Linked DNA regions of Homo sapiens: regions 1, 3 and 4 are each reported to be linked to region 2. Evidence: microRNA targets listed by miRTarBase, many of them from high-throughput screens and not tested one by one. Region 2 holds a microRNA gene; each other region holds the end of a gene's coding sequence.
The links. Region 2 holds the annotated microRNA hsa-miR-30b-3p (CUGGGAGGUGGAUGUUUACUUC, at 1,449-1,470, shown strand). A microRNA usually pairs through its seed, bases 2 to 8, with sites in the 3' UTR of a target mRNA and lowers its output. Matches are read on the target gene's strand: a 7mer-m8 pairs with bases 2 to 8, a 7mer-A1 pairs with bases 2 to 7 and ends in A, and an 8mer does both.

Region 1: the mRNA of CRPPA is a reported target of hsa-miR-30b-3p. Seed matches in the 3' UTR shown: 8mer at 1,597-1,604.
Region 3: miRTarBase lists RAB2B as a target of hsa-miR-30b-3p. Seed matches in the 3' UTR shown: 8mer at 1,696-1,703 and 7mer-m8 at 671-677.
Region 4: miRTarBase lists C19orf47 as a target of hsa-miR-30b-3p. Seed matches in the 3' UTR shown: 7mer-m8 at 572-578, 7mer-A1 at 772-778 and 7mer-m8 at 1,070-1,076.

The regions. Positions count from the first base shown.
Region 1 is chr7:16,088,960-16,092,063 of GRCh38, reverse strand. CRPPA (CDP-L-ribitol pyrophosphorylase A) reads left to right here. Exons shown (of 10, transcript NM_001101426.4): 10 at 265-3,104. The coding sequence ends at 369. Among named protein-coding and RNA genes, the nearest start is that of CRPPA-AS1, 120 kb to the left of the region's middle. RefSeq lists a silencer at 93-293.
Region 2 is chr8:134,798,898-134,802,001 of GRCh38, reverse strand. It overlaps MIR30B (microRNA 30b), which reads left to right and starts at 1,395; the gene lies at 1,395-1,482. It also overlaps a transcript of ZFAT not described here.
Region 3 is chr14:21,458,648-21,461,751 of GRCh38, forward strand. It overlaps RAB2B (RAB2B, member RAS oncogene family), which reads right to left. Exons shown (of 8, transcript NM_032846.4): 8 at 373-2,656. The coding sequence ends at 2,549. The region is part of intron 1 of LOC124903283 (a long non-coding RNA gene); the gene reads left to right. Among named protein-coding and RNA genes, the nearest start is that of CHD8, 4.1 kb to the left of the region's middle.
Region 4 is chr19:40,319,278-40,322,374 of GRCh38, reverse strand. It overlaps C19orf47 (chromosome 19 open reading frame 47), which reads left to right. Exons shown (of 9, transcript NM_001256441.2): 9 at 1-2,839. The coding sequence ends at 493. Among named protein-coding and RNA genes, the nearest start is that of C19orf47, 28 kb to the left of the region's middle.

The DNA.
Region 1 (3,104 bases), not on the chromosome of region 2:
AATCTTTTCTTTCTGTTAGCATTTGAAATTGTGTCAGTGTTTTTCCTTGCATCTTAAGCAAATATTTTTTGGTCTATAATGAAAAGTGTTTGTGAAAGTATTTCCTCTTTATTCGGGGAACCGTGTCCATGACAGTGGCTAGAGTCTGAGTTTCTAAAATGCCAAATCCAGACCGCAGCAGATCTTGAAAAGTGGCTTTTTATCAAACTTAACACATGGCATATGTTTTTTCTAAAATATTACTGGTTTATCCTTTCTTTTCAGGATGATCAGAAGCTACAGGAGAGTTTAAGGCAAGGTGCTATCATTATTGCTTCATTAATCAAGGAAAGAAATTCTGGACTCATTGGTCAGCTTCTGATAGCATGAAGAACACAAAAAATTACCTATTTTCTAAAACATCTATTTGCGTATCTTAATTGTGCTTTGTGCCCCCGCTGCTGTGTGTGGTAGAATGTTTCAGTTGTCTTTTATATCTTCTCTATAATTTGTAGGATGTGATGCTTAGATTATAAAGCAGATTAATGTTTATATCTGTGAAATAAAGAATACTTTTGTGTATGACAAATATTAATTGCCTGAACCAGAAAAAAATAGTAGATAAGTGGAAAATAATAGCCTTCAAATGAATCTTTCCACAGAGACATGAACGGTCAAATAGAAATAATGATGGGGTGAGCTATTCTTTCAAGGAATGAGAATTTAGAAAACTTCAGTTATTATCCTAACTGTTAATTAATAATTTACACTATTATGAAGCTAATGGATAAACTTCAGAATTATTCTCACTTCTATAATTGTCCTGTCACCAGGTGATATTTTGTCTTTTTGTCTTGTGTTAAAAATGTCTACACTTTAATAAAAAAGGGTGAGTGGGATACCAGGGAACGGAACTGTTTGTTTCTAGCATTTTCCCCATTTGCCACATATTACTCAAGATCCCTAAAACAGATGTCATTTCCTTCTTTTCTGTTTTTAAATTGTATGTTATTTTTGGTTTATGAACTATAATTATGACTTACATTATTTTAAAGGGTCTCTAGTTTTTCTGAATGAACTTAAAAGTGTCTGGAAAGTTTCGTAGGTGATTCTGGTCAATCCCTGGTTAGTTATCTTCTATAAGGTAGAGAATCTATTGTACATCATAGAGTTAAATTAGTTATTTCAATTCAGATACTGCTACCTTTTAAAATCAAGTTCTTATTTCCAGTTTTCATTGGTATATACATCTGAAATATTAATATTTTCCCTTGCATGTTATAATTATGGGTGTCCTTTAATTCATTAGAGGTGACTTTTAATCTATACATACACTTACTCTATTTATTTTATTTTTTATTGTTTTGAAATGCAGTCGCCCTCTGTCAGGCTGGAGTGCAGTGGCACAATCTCAGCTGACTGCAACCTCTGCCTCCTGGGTTTAAGCAATTATCCTCCCTCAGCCTCCCGAGTAGCTGGGATTACAGGCACCTGCCACCACACCTGGCTAATTTTTTTTTTTTTTTTTTTTTTTTGTATTTTTAGTAGAGAAGGGTTTTCGCCATGTAGGCCAGGCTGGTCTTGAACTCCTGACCTCAAGTGATCTGCCTGCCTCGGCCTCCCAAAATGCTGGGATTATAGGTGTGAGCCACCATACCCAGCCAACATACATTTATTTTATTGAAACAGATTAGGGCTTAGGCTGCACGTGGAAACTATAAAAGTTGCATGAAGTGTTTTCAGTTAAAGATACACTATACAATATCTACCTTGTGGAATTTTTATTTAACATGTTGGGTGATTTTCCCTCTAGTGTTCAAGTATATATATAGTAGGAGAGTTTATATTTTACATTCTCCTAATTGAAATGTGTTATTTGAATGTAGGCTTGTATCTAAATTCCTGGGCCTGCCCTTTTTCTCTCTCTAGGAATATTAAGAAATTTAAAATCCATTAATTTAAGTTTTTGAGGATGGAAATAGGTAAGCAATGTGTGGATTGTGGTTAGGAATGTCTGTGCCTTTGTTCAGATGTCGGCTGTGTGTGTGACGAAAACCACAGCTGCCAAGTCCCCAACATGCACCTGTTGAAGTCATCAGGTGAAAATGTTTAAGACTTTGAAAGTGCTCATAAAGGAAGAAGGGGAAATGTTATCAAGGCTTTAAAGAGAGGGTAAGTGCCTTGAAGAAGAATGCAGTAAACTGGGCATATTTGTGGCACAGCAAAATCACCCTGATCGCTGGAGTGCTGGCTGAGTTAACATAGACTTCAGCTTAAGGAATCCTACAGCAGACAAGAATTTATCTCAGAGTACTTACTATGACATTACCCTAGGCAACTGGTAACATTTAGTATAATTTAGTTAATAAAATATTAAGTTGTGCCTGGAAAAAATAGCATTTGGTCCTTCATAGCAGGCAAAGCAATTCACAGCATTGGGAAAAAAAAATACATACATACATATACATGTATGTATACCCATATATATGTATATACATGCATGTATACCCATATATATGTATATACTTACATGTATATACATATATATGTATGTACGTACATATATACCCATATCTATGTATGTACGTACATATATACCCGTATATATGTACGTACATATATACACATATATGTATGCACGTACATATATACACATATATGTATGTACGTACATATATACACATTATGTACATACATATATACGTATATATGTACATGCATGTATGTATGTATATACGTACGCATACACACATATATTTATATACGTACGCATACACACATATATGTATATACGTACGCATACACACATATATGTATATACGTACGCATACACACATATATGTATATACGTACGCATACACACATATATGTATATACGTACGTATATACACACATATATGTATATACGTACGTATATATGTATTTTTATGTTTTATGTATATGTATTTTATATGTATATATATCTGCACATCCTTCACTATTTTCATGAGGAAATTGGAGCTCAGGGATCTTAGTTACCTTGCCAAAATCATGTGACTGAATAGTAACAAAAGTTTGGGCTTAAAATAAGGAAGACTGATAATAAGTGTTAAGCTTATATTCCTGTCTAACAATGACCCCTGGCA
Region 2 (3,104 bases):
TTGCTGGGCCCTGCAAAAAAAGTTTCTGATTCAGTAGGTCTGGGGTGGAACATAAGAATGTGCTTTTCCCCCCACAGTTCCCAAGTACTGCTGATGCTGCTCCTCTAGGCCCATGCTTTCAGAATCACAGAGCTCATCTTACATTCTTTTCCTGCTAGATATTATGCCCAATTAATACATGAAGTAAAACAGAAAAATCCTTAACTTAAAAACATGTATTAATCCAGAAGTTTGATTATAAAAAGGTTTGTTGAAAATGTGAGACCATTTTTTCTCCCAGAGAAAAAGTATATTAATTGTCTAGCTGGGAGGGGCCTATTTGAATGTGTTTTCAGAGAAAAGCAGAAGAAAAAAATACGGTTGTAATAGAAGTAGTTAAAACAGAAAAGCAGTATGGTTGTAGAGTGGGGTGGCGGGGAGGTATATGTGTATTTAATCTTGAGAACCAATGCTTTTGGAAAACAGCCCGAAGGGACAAGAGACTAGGTAGAGACTGGCGAGGTTCCTGAAAGTCCTGGGTTACCTGTGAAATGCCAAAGATTTTTAAAGTTTGCTGGCAGTGGTTATTATATGTAGTTTTACTTCCAAATTTGAAGATTTCCTCTTCTTTGATGCAAGTGTGTTGGTAGGACCACTGATAATAGTTAGTGGAGATATTTGTGGGAATATATTTTTAATCAGAAAGAATGCAAAAAGAGGGGGAGACATTTCTTTGAGACACCTTAATGACACTGGGAACAGTAGAAGGTGGAAAGAGATCAGAGTGTGGGAAAGATGTGCCTGAGATGAAATTATCTGAATTCTGAATGTGGGGGAGAAGATGAGGAGAGGGTTGAGGGGGAGGAGAGATGACTAAGCTCCTCACAGTGTTTCATTAACTGTCTTTTACCTAAAGGAGGAATCTTCTTAATGAAGATTGGTTGATGCATCATACTGGTCATCAAGTAAGTTCTTATAAATGCAAGTTTGATTGTTTTGAAGGGAAGGATATAGGAAGGCTGGATAATCAGCTACATTTAGATATGGAACACTACAGGATGTCGGCATTTATTGTTGTAAATTCCTTTGGTGAAAAACGTTATCACTTGTTTGTGACTAGCCTGGGCAATATAGTGAGACCTTGTCTCTAAAAAAAATTTTATTAATAAGAAAAATTAGCCGGGCATAGTAGCGTGCCTGTAGTGCCCCCCACTGCCCTGGACACGCCCCCACTTCCAAAAAAACAAACACCCAACTCACTTCTGCCTTTTCCTTGGATTCTACACTTTCTCTCAGGATATCTTTCCGATTGAGTCTTGCCTCATTTATGTGAATGCTGTGCCTGTTCTTTTTTTCAACAGAGTCTTACGTAAAGAACCGTACAAACTTAGTAAAGAGTTTAAGTCCTGCTTTAAACCAAGTTTCAGTTCATGTAAACATCCTACACTCAGCTGTAATACATGGATTGGCTGGGAGGTGGATGTTTACTTCAGCTGACTTGGAATGTCAACCAATTAACATTGATAAAAGATTTGGCAAGAATAGTATACAGAGGCTTGAATTTTTAATGTAATTAATGTAATTAAAGGTTTGTTGGAAATGTGAGACCATTTTGTTCTCCCAGAGAAAAAGTGTGTTAATTGTCTAGCTGGCAGGGATCTACTTGAATATGTTTGCAGAGAAAAGCAGAAGAAAGCATGGTTGCAGTAGGAGTAGTTAAAACAGAAAAACAGTATGCTTATAGAGGAAAAATTACTCTAAATTTATTAAAATTCCTTTAAATTTGTTACTCAATTTAAATTTTTATTGTATCTTTTCAATTTTGCTATAGCACTAACATGACATAAGGCTCTGGGTATTGGGACAAAAGAATGCCCTTGTTTGGTAGTTGGGGTCGGGTTTGTAGTATTGCAGTGTGCTTTAACAAGCATGGGCTTTGACATCAGACATTTGTTGCCATCTGGACTCCACAAGTGAATTTGCTACGGGATTTGGAGGAGGGAAAGGCACTGTTTCCATACCTCAGTGGTTTTCTCATCTGTAAAATAAGTATGTGATTGCATGGATTGACTTACATGATGAATATAAAGTTGTTCATTAGTACAGTACCTGTCATATTAAGTACTCAATAAATGCTAGTTATTATTAATGCTGTGTTGTAGGTGTTCAGTAAATAGTTGCCATAATGCTTAAAGCAGACATAACTTGTTTTTATTTTTGCAATAAAGATGATGCCAACTTTTTGGTTTAATGGAAATGCTTTGAATCTTTGATATTGTTGTAATATAGTGGCAAAGAATTTTGAATCCCAGCTTCTGGAGCTCATATCTTGATTCTGCGAGTTACTTCGCTATGTTACTTTGGGGGAAGTTATTAATCTCTCTGTGCCTCAGTTTCCTCAGTCGACTAAATTGAAATTATAATAGCACCTACCTGATAGGATTGTTGAGACTAAATGAGGTAACAATTTAAAAATAAGCTAATACCTGATAATTAGTTCTATATATGTACTGATTGGTCTAAACGTTATTTCCATTTTCATGTCTTTACTTAAAATACTGAAAATTAATTTTTTATAGCTTTGTTTTTCAGTTCCATGAAATCAGCCTGCCTTTTCTTTTTTTGGTGATACATCCACATTCTGTATAGGTGAAAAGCAAAACAAACAAGTATAAAACGAAAATTATGTAAGAAGTACACACATCCTAGCAGCTTGGCAAGTGTCTGTATGCTCTTGCCTGTGCCTAAATCCAGAATTAGAATTCATGCTTGGTGCTCCTGTGGAAGATGTCTAAATGTTATGAGAAATACATGATTAAATAAAAATGTGAAATGAAAGCATGGAGACTTGTTGAAGGTGAGTGCTGTTTTTCTAATTATATATTTTATTTGTTTAATGAATAATTTGTTAATTTTCTTTGTCATTACGAGAGAGCTGTTTTATTCTGTACTTAGGTGCATAGCATACTATGTTTTAGTGAGCTCCACATGTTAATTTGAAACTTGCCAAATTTTTACATTATTTTATAATTTATAGTACTTTGAGAAACATATTGCAATGCATTACAAAGCATATAATGTAAAGGTAGTTTTATGAAGTGTTTTTCTCCCAAATTAAGCATATT
Region 3 (3,104 bases), not on the chromosome of region 2:
TAAAGATTGTTTTTTTGGGTAGTAAAAAAAAAAAAAACAAAAAAAAAACCTTCTGTACAGAAACTAGTTTTTATTACTTTAGTTTTCGCCCAGAGGTAAGGGGGCAGGCTAACTCCAAGTTCAACAGCTTCAAATCCTTTTTGGAATCAGATAGGATTTTAAAAACAAAACAAAAGCATAACCAAAGCAATACCCCAAATGTCTTCCAACTTCCTGTGGTGCACTGTCAACTATTACTACTACTACTGGGGTCAGAATCGAGTATAGCATGAATCCCAAAGAGGCTTCTTCATTATCTTTGATTTAATTCCCTGAGAGGAGAGTATCTACTAATGTTTGGGATACAATTAGAAATGACACATGGAGTATGAATAGCTTTGATACATGCATATATTTAATAATGAAACAATTCATCAACAGCAAAAAGAAAGTAGAAAAATTCGTAAGACCTCAGGGCTGTGGAAGAGAACGGGACATCAAGGAAAAAAGATATATATAGCAACCAACCCAGAAGGCTGCATGATGAGTGAAGCAAAGGCAAGTTTGGCTAAGATAGTATTATATGCTCTGAAAAGAGAATGGCTGGATAGGTACCCACTTATGTGACTGCTTACTAGCAGGCAGCCTTACTGTATGCCTCATGGAATGGAGGCAAAAAGCCAGGGAAAGGTGGGAGGGGAGAAGGAAGAGAACTGTATAAAACCCAGGGTAAACAAATGAGTGGGGCAGAATTACAGAGAGAGGACTCTAAAGTCTTTTGTTTCCTTGAAAGTCTAAAATAAACCTTAAGTTTTTAACTATGTCAGTCAAATTCAATGAACACATAATGAGTAGCACTAGGCACTGTAAAGGAATGATAGGGGGAATAATTTATAAAAATAAAGGAATGACATGGATCCTGCTCTCAAGGAGCTTACAACTTATACGGAAAGACAAGATTCCACACAAAAACAACTGCAAACCATATTTACATAGTAACATACATAAAAATAAATATACATATAAATAGACATATGAATAACCAACATATGAAAACTAAGGAATATTGTGTTAATAACTGCTTAGCAGTACCTAAGTCTGTTACTAAAGAAAAAATTTTTGGACTTTTAAGTATAATTAGTGGAGAGTAGGGCATGTGCAAAGGTATGGAACTAGGAATAAATATGTCACATTCAGTAAGTAGATTAGCCTGATTGGAGTAGAAAGTCTAGGTCTAGTTAAGAAGGGAGTTTGATGAAACAGTAGAAGTCTATCTGGTGAAAGACACTACAATGTTAGATCTGGCCCCTAAAATAAAATGAACAGGGAACAAATGTTTTCTTTAGGTAATAATAAGTGGCCACATGTCCCTGACCAACTTCACTGCTCTTAAAAGTTTTGAAGTTACACTAAGAGATAGAAGCTAATAATAGGATAGTAGAGAAGTACTCAGTGCTCTTGGGCAAGTAGAGGAAACTGCCTTCTACAAGAATTCTTAGGAAGTGGCAAGCAGACACCCAAAGGCAAGGAAGAAAAAAACTCAATGAAATTCCGAGGCAGAGGATCTATCAACCAAAGGCCAACTAGATCTAGGTAATTGCAAGTGTTCAAATAGAATGTCTTTGACCCTAATTCTTAGTGGGAAGTGGATTGTATATGCTTACGAAATTATTTATTTAGGCCAGGCACGGTGGCTCACACCTGTAATCCAGCACTTTGGGAGGCCAAGGTGGGCGGATCACGAGGTCAAGAGATCAAGACCATCCTGGCCAACATGGTGAAACCCTGTCTCTACTAAAAATACAAAAATGAGCCAGGTGTGGTGGCACATGCCTGTAGTCCCAGCTACTCGGGAGGTTGAGGCAGGAGAACTGCTTGAACCTGGAAAGTGGAGGTTGCAGTGAGCCAAGATCATGCCACTGCACTCCAGCCTGGAGACAGAGTGAGACTCCATCCCCCCAAAAAAAAAAAAAAAAAAAGAAAAAAAAAATTATTTATTTATTTGAGACAGAGTTTTGCTCTTGTTGCCCAGGCTGCAGTGCAATGGCGTGATCTTGGCTTAGCGTAACCTTCACCTCCTGGGTTCAAGCGATTCTCCTGCCTTGGCCTCCCGAGTACCTGGGATTACAGGCATGCACCACCACACCCAGCTAATTTTGTATTTTCAGTTGAGATGGCATTTCTCCAAGTTGGTCAGGCTGGTCTCGAACTCTTGACCTCAGGTGATCTGCCCACCTTGGCCTCCCAAAGTGCTAGGATTACAGGCATGAGCCATGGCGCCCCGCCATGAAATTATTTTTTAACTACTGTGATAATCAACTTTGATCCTAACAATTTAAGAAATTTGTATAGGAGGATAAGAAGAACCCTAATCTATAGGGAATGCTCATGTCCCTGAAGGAGGACAGGTCAGTAAGGGCCCAAATTCTCTCCTGGTCTTTAGGTGGAAAGGCAAAACATCACACTTTAAAAAGAGGCTGCTCTCAGCCAAAGCAAGAAAGACCTCTTTCATTAAGCCTATTGATCTGAAGCTATTCCAGGAAGGACAAAAAAAGTTCAAGCCAGATGTTCAGCAGCAGCCAGAGTTGGACCCTATGTCACGAGAGTTCCGCTGGGAGGCACTGGGTCCCACTGATGTTGAAATTGACTGTTGGGGCCCAATCTTGATGCCATTTGCCTGTAAAAGAAAAGAGGCAATAGTTCCCACCTCAGTGTTAAAGTGAATGAGAGACAGGAGGGGGCTATCTCTGCTTGTATCCCAGGGTAGAAAGAAAACAGAAAGGGGAGAAAGGAGAAATCATTAATTATATTTTCTAAAAGCAGATTTGACCTTGGCAGGTAACCAGATGCCCTAGCCACGCTGATGTGGAACAATAATCTGTGACAGTAAGAATAAGATGACTACCTGTGGTCTAAATATCCTAGTTGACTACAGTGGCTTTTGTGCACTTTTTTTTTCCTTGAGGAAATGAGGTCTCCCTATGTTGCCCAGGCTGCAGTGCAGTGGCTATTCACAGTATGATCAGTGTGCACTATAGCCTCAAACTTCTGGCCTCAAGTGATCCTGCCTCAGCCTCCCAAGTAGCTGAGACTATGGGTGCGCCACTGCACCCCTGTGCTCATTT
Region 4 (3,097 bases), not on the chromosome of region 2:
CACAGGAGTCTTCAGCCGCCTGGGGGCCACCCCAGAAACGGACGAGGATCTGGCTTGGGACAGCGACAATGACAGCAGCAGCTCTGTCTTGCAGTATGCCGGGGTCCTGAAGAAGCTAGGACGGGGCCCAGCCAAGGCCAGTCCCCAGCCAGCACTGACTGTCAAAGCCAAGGCCACAAGCTCAGCGACAACGGCTGCTGCCCCGACACTGCGGCGCCTGGCGCTTTCCTCACGGTCTGGGCTTGAGAGGAAGCCGGAGTCCTTGTCTAAAGTCAGCATCATCAAGAGACTGGGCGCAGCTGCCCTTGTGCCCGAGGCCCAGGACAGCCAGGTCACCAGCACCAAGAGTAAGTCCTCAGCCGAGGTCAAGGTCACCATTAAGAGGACTCTGGTGGGGCCCCGGGGGAGCAGCTCCAGCGAGGGCCTTGGTGCCCAGATGGACCACGCGGGCACTGTGAGCGTGTTCAAAAGACTGGGCCGCAGGACCTTCTAGCCCACCTGTGGGCGGGGTGCAGGCAGCAGAGCCTGCGGGCATCTGCCCTGGCCGCCCCAGGCTCCTGGCTTCATCACGCCTCCCACCAGCTCCTGGATGACACAGCTTGTCTCCCTCGGGCTCTAGAGCTAGGCCCGAGCATTCGGGGGATCACCCCATTTCTCCTAGCCTGGGATGGTCGTCGCAGCTGGCCTGGCCTGCTCCAGGACTCCCCTTCTCTCATGTCCTCTGTGCTTTCTTCTCTGGCTGTGGCCTTGGCAGAACCCACTTTTCTACCTCTCCCAAGTGCCAGGGGGCTTCTTCCTCTCCTACATTCCCCTTCTTCCCCTGAGCAGGGTCTGCTGCCTCAGACCCCAGCTCATCAGCCTCCCTGTCCCCCTCAACTAAGTGGGTGTCACCTGGTGGGCCTCCCTTCCCCCACTCCCCACTGACCTCCCTCACTCCTCTGCGCCTCCCCCCACTGCTGTGACTTCTCTCTCTCCCTGTCTTCACTTTGTTCATTTCTCTTCTGTTTTCTGTCCCCGTGGCAAGGCCCGACTGTCCGCTGCGTCCTGCCCGACCCTCCTGTACCTCCGGCCTCCCAGCGGCCCCCTCGTCGGCGGTGGCGTCGAGCCTGTTGAGACTGTTAGCCGCCCTCTACTCCCAGGCTGGAGGGACCTCTCCAGACCCTGGGCTGCGGCTGAGGCGCATCCGTTTTCCTGCCCTGGGCATCTGTCTCTGAAAGTGTATGGCGGGTGGTGGGCAAGGGGCACTGGGAAGGGAGGCCAGTGCCTAGAGTGAAGACAGCTGCTGTTTTAATATATTTTTGTGACTTTCAAATCATTTCCCCCACTCCTTCAGGGTGAGTTGCAGGACTGTTTCACACTATGCGCAGCTGGGCTGGGGATGGTGGCAGAGGATTGGGCTGTGTCTCTAAAGGTCAGGCTTCCTGCACACACATGGTCCATGTCCCTGCTGCAAGCCCTGAGTCAGGGGGAGTAATGGCCACAGTCACCATTCAGTTAGGCCGCCCCCTGCCCCCAATAAGCCGTAGTGGTTTTGTCACTCTATCCCCTCCCCCCATGGATTTCACCTGCCTGCTGGCACCTTTCCAAATGATGGGCTCCGTTTGTGAGACCATGAGTTTCCACTGGTTTGGTCGCCCACCCCTCCCTGCTGCACAGCGCCCCTGAGCCAGGCCTGTCCTAGGAGCTGGTAGCAGGTAGTGAGCAGGGCCTCTCCAGGGATGGGGTGTAGGTAAAGCGGTGGTGCTGGCCAAGGAATCTGAGGAGTGGGAGAAAGTGGCCAGGGCCGCTTCAGTGGTTGTGGATAGGAAGGCCTTGCAGAAGGGGTGACATGGAGGCCAAGTTGGGAATGTGGCTTCATGAAGTTCAGGAGGAGAGCTTTCAGACAGAGGGACAGCCAGGGGCAGAGGTGCTGAGGTGGGACAAGGAACAGGAAGAAGGCTGGTGGCTGTGGGTGAGGGTGGGCCCTGCCTCCAGCATGAGGCAGAGGTGGGTGGGCAGGGGCTAGGTGGCTGGGGGTGTTGTGATCAAGGAGGAGGAATGTGCACAGTGACCCGGGAGTGCTGGATCGGGAGGATTTGGAGCTGGGATGTGCTGAGCTGAGTTTCATTTAGGATCATCGCTCTGGCTTCTGTGAGGAGAAGGAATGGCTGGGAGGGCTGGGGTGGATGCCACTGCAGCAGTCCAGGCAGGAAGCCAGGATGGCTGCGAGGGCATGGCAGTGGGGAGCAGGGAAGAGGGCCGCTTGGGCTGCTTAGGGTGTGCTTTGGAGGAAGAGCTGTGGGATGTGCTGATGGGTTGGAAGTTGGGGCTAGAGAAGATGAGAATCATAGGGCCCGCCTAGATGTTAGACCGGAGCATCTGGGGGAACGGCTGTTAACAGAGAAGGGGAGACGGGAGGAAGGTCAAGGAAGAGGGAGCTGTGTTCTGACTGCATTGCGCCTGTTAGGGTCCCCGCTGGGGCTCAGGCGGACACCTGGGCTGGGGGTTCATGGCTGCTGACAGTGCGCAGGGTACAGCTGGAATCAAAGCCAAGGGCCTTGGCTGGGCGTGGTGGCTTACGCTTGTAATCCCAGCAGTTTGGGAGGCCAAGGCGGGTGGATCACAAGGTCAGGAGTTCGAGACCAGCCTGGCCAAGATGGTGAAACCCCGTCTCTACTAAAAATACAAAAATTAGCCGGGTGTGGTGACAGGTGCCTGTAATCCCGGCTACTTAGGAGGCTGAGGCAGGAGGATCGCTTGAACCCGGGAGGTGGAGGTTGCAGTGAGCTGAGATCGTGCCACTGCACTCCAGCCTAGGCAACAAGAGCGAGACTCCATCTCAAAAAAAAAAAAAAAAAAAGCCAAGGGCCTGGTAATACCAGCTGGAAAGGGATCATAGAGATTGGAGGGAATCTGGGGCCCTTTCCCTGTTTAGAGAACAGGAACTGACAAAAAGAGACAGCCTAGGAGAGGTCAGGGGGTTGGAGGAGAATTAATGAGAGAGCAGGTAAAGATGAGACTAGATCTCATCCGTTTATTTATTTATTTTCATTGTGTGAAAATATACCTCGTGAAATTTACAATTTTAACCATTTTATTTTATTTTTATTGTTTATTT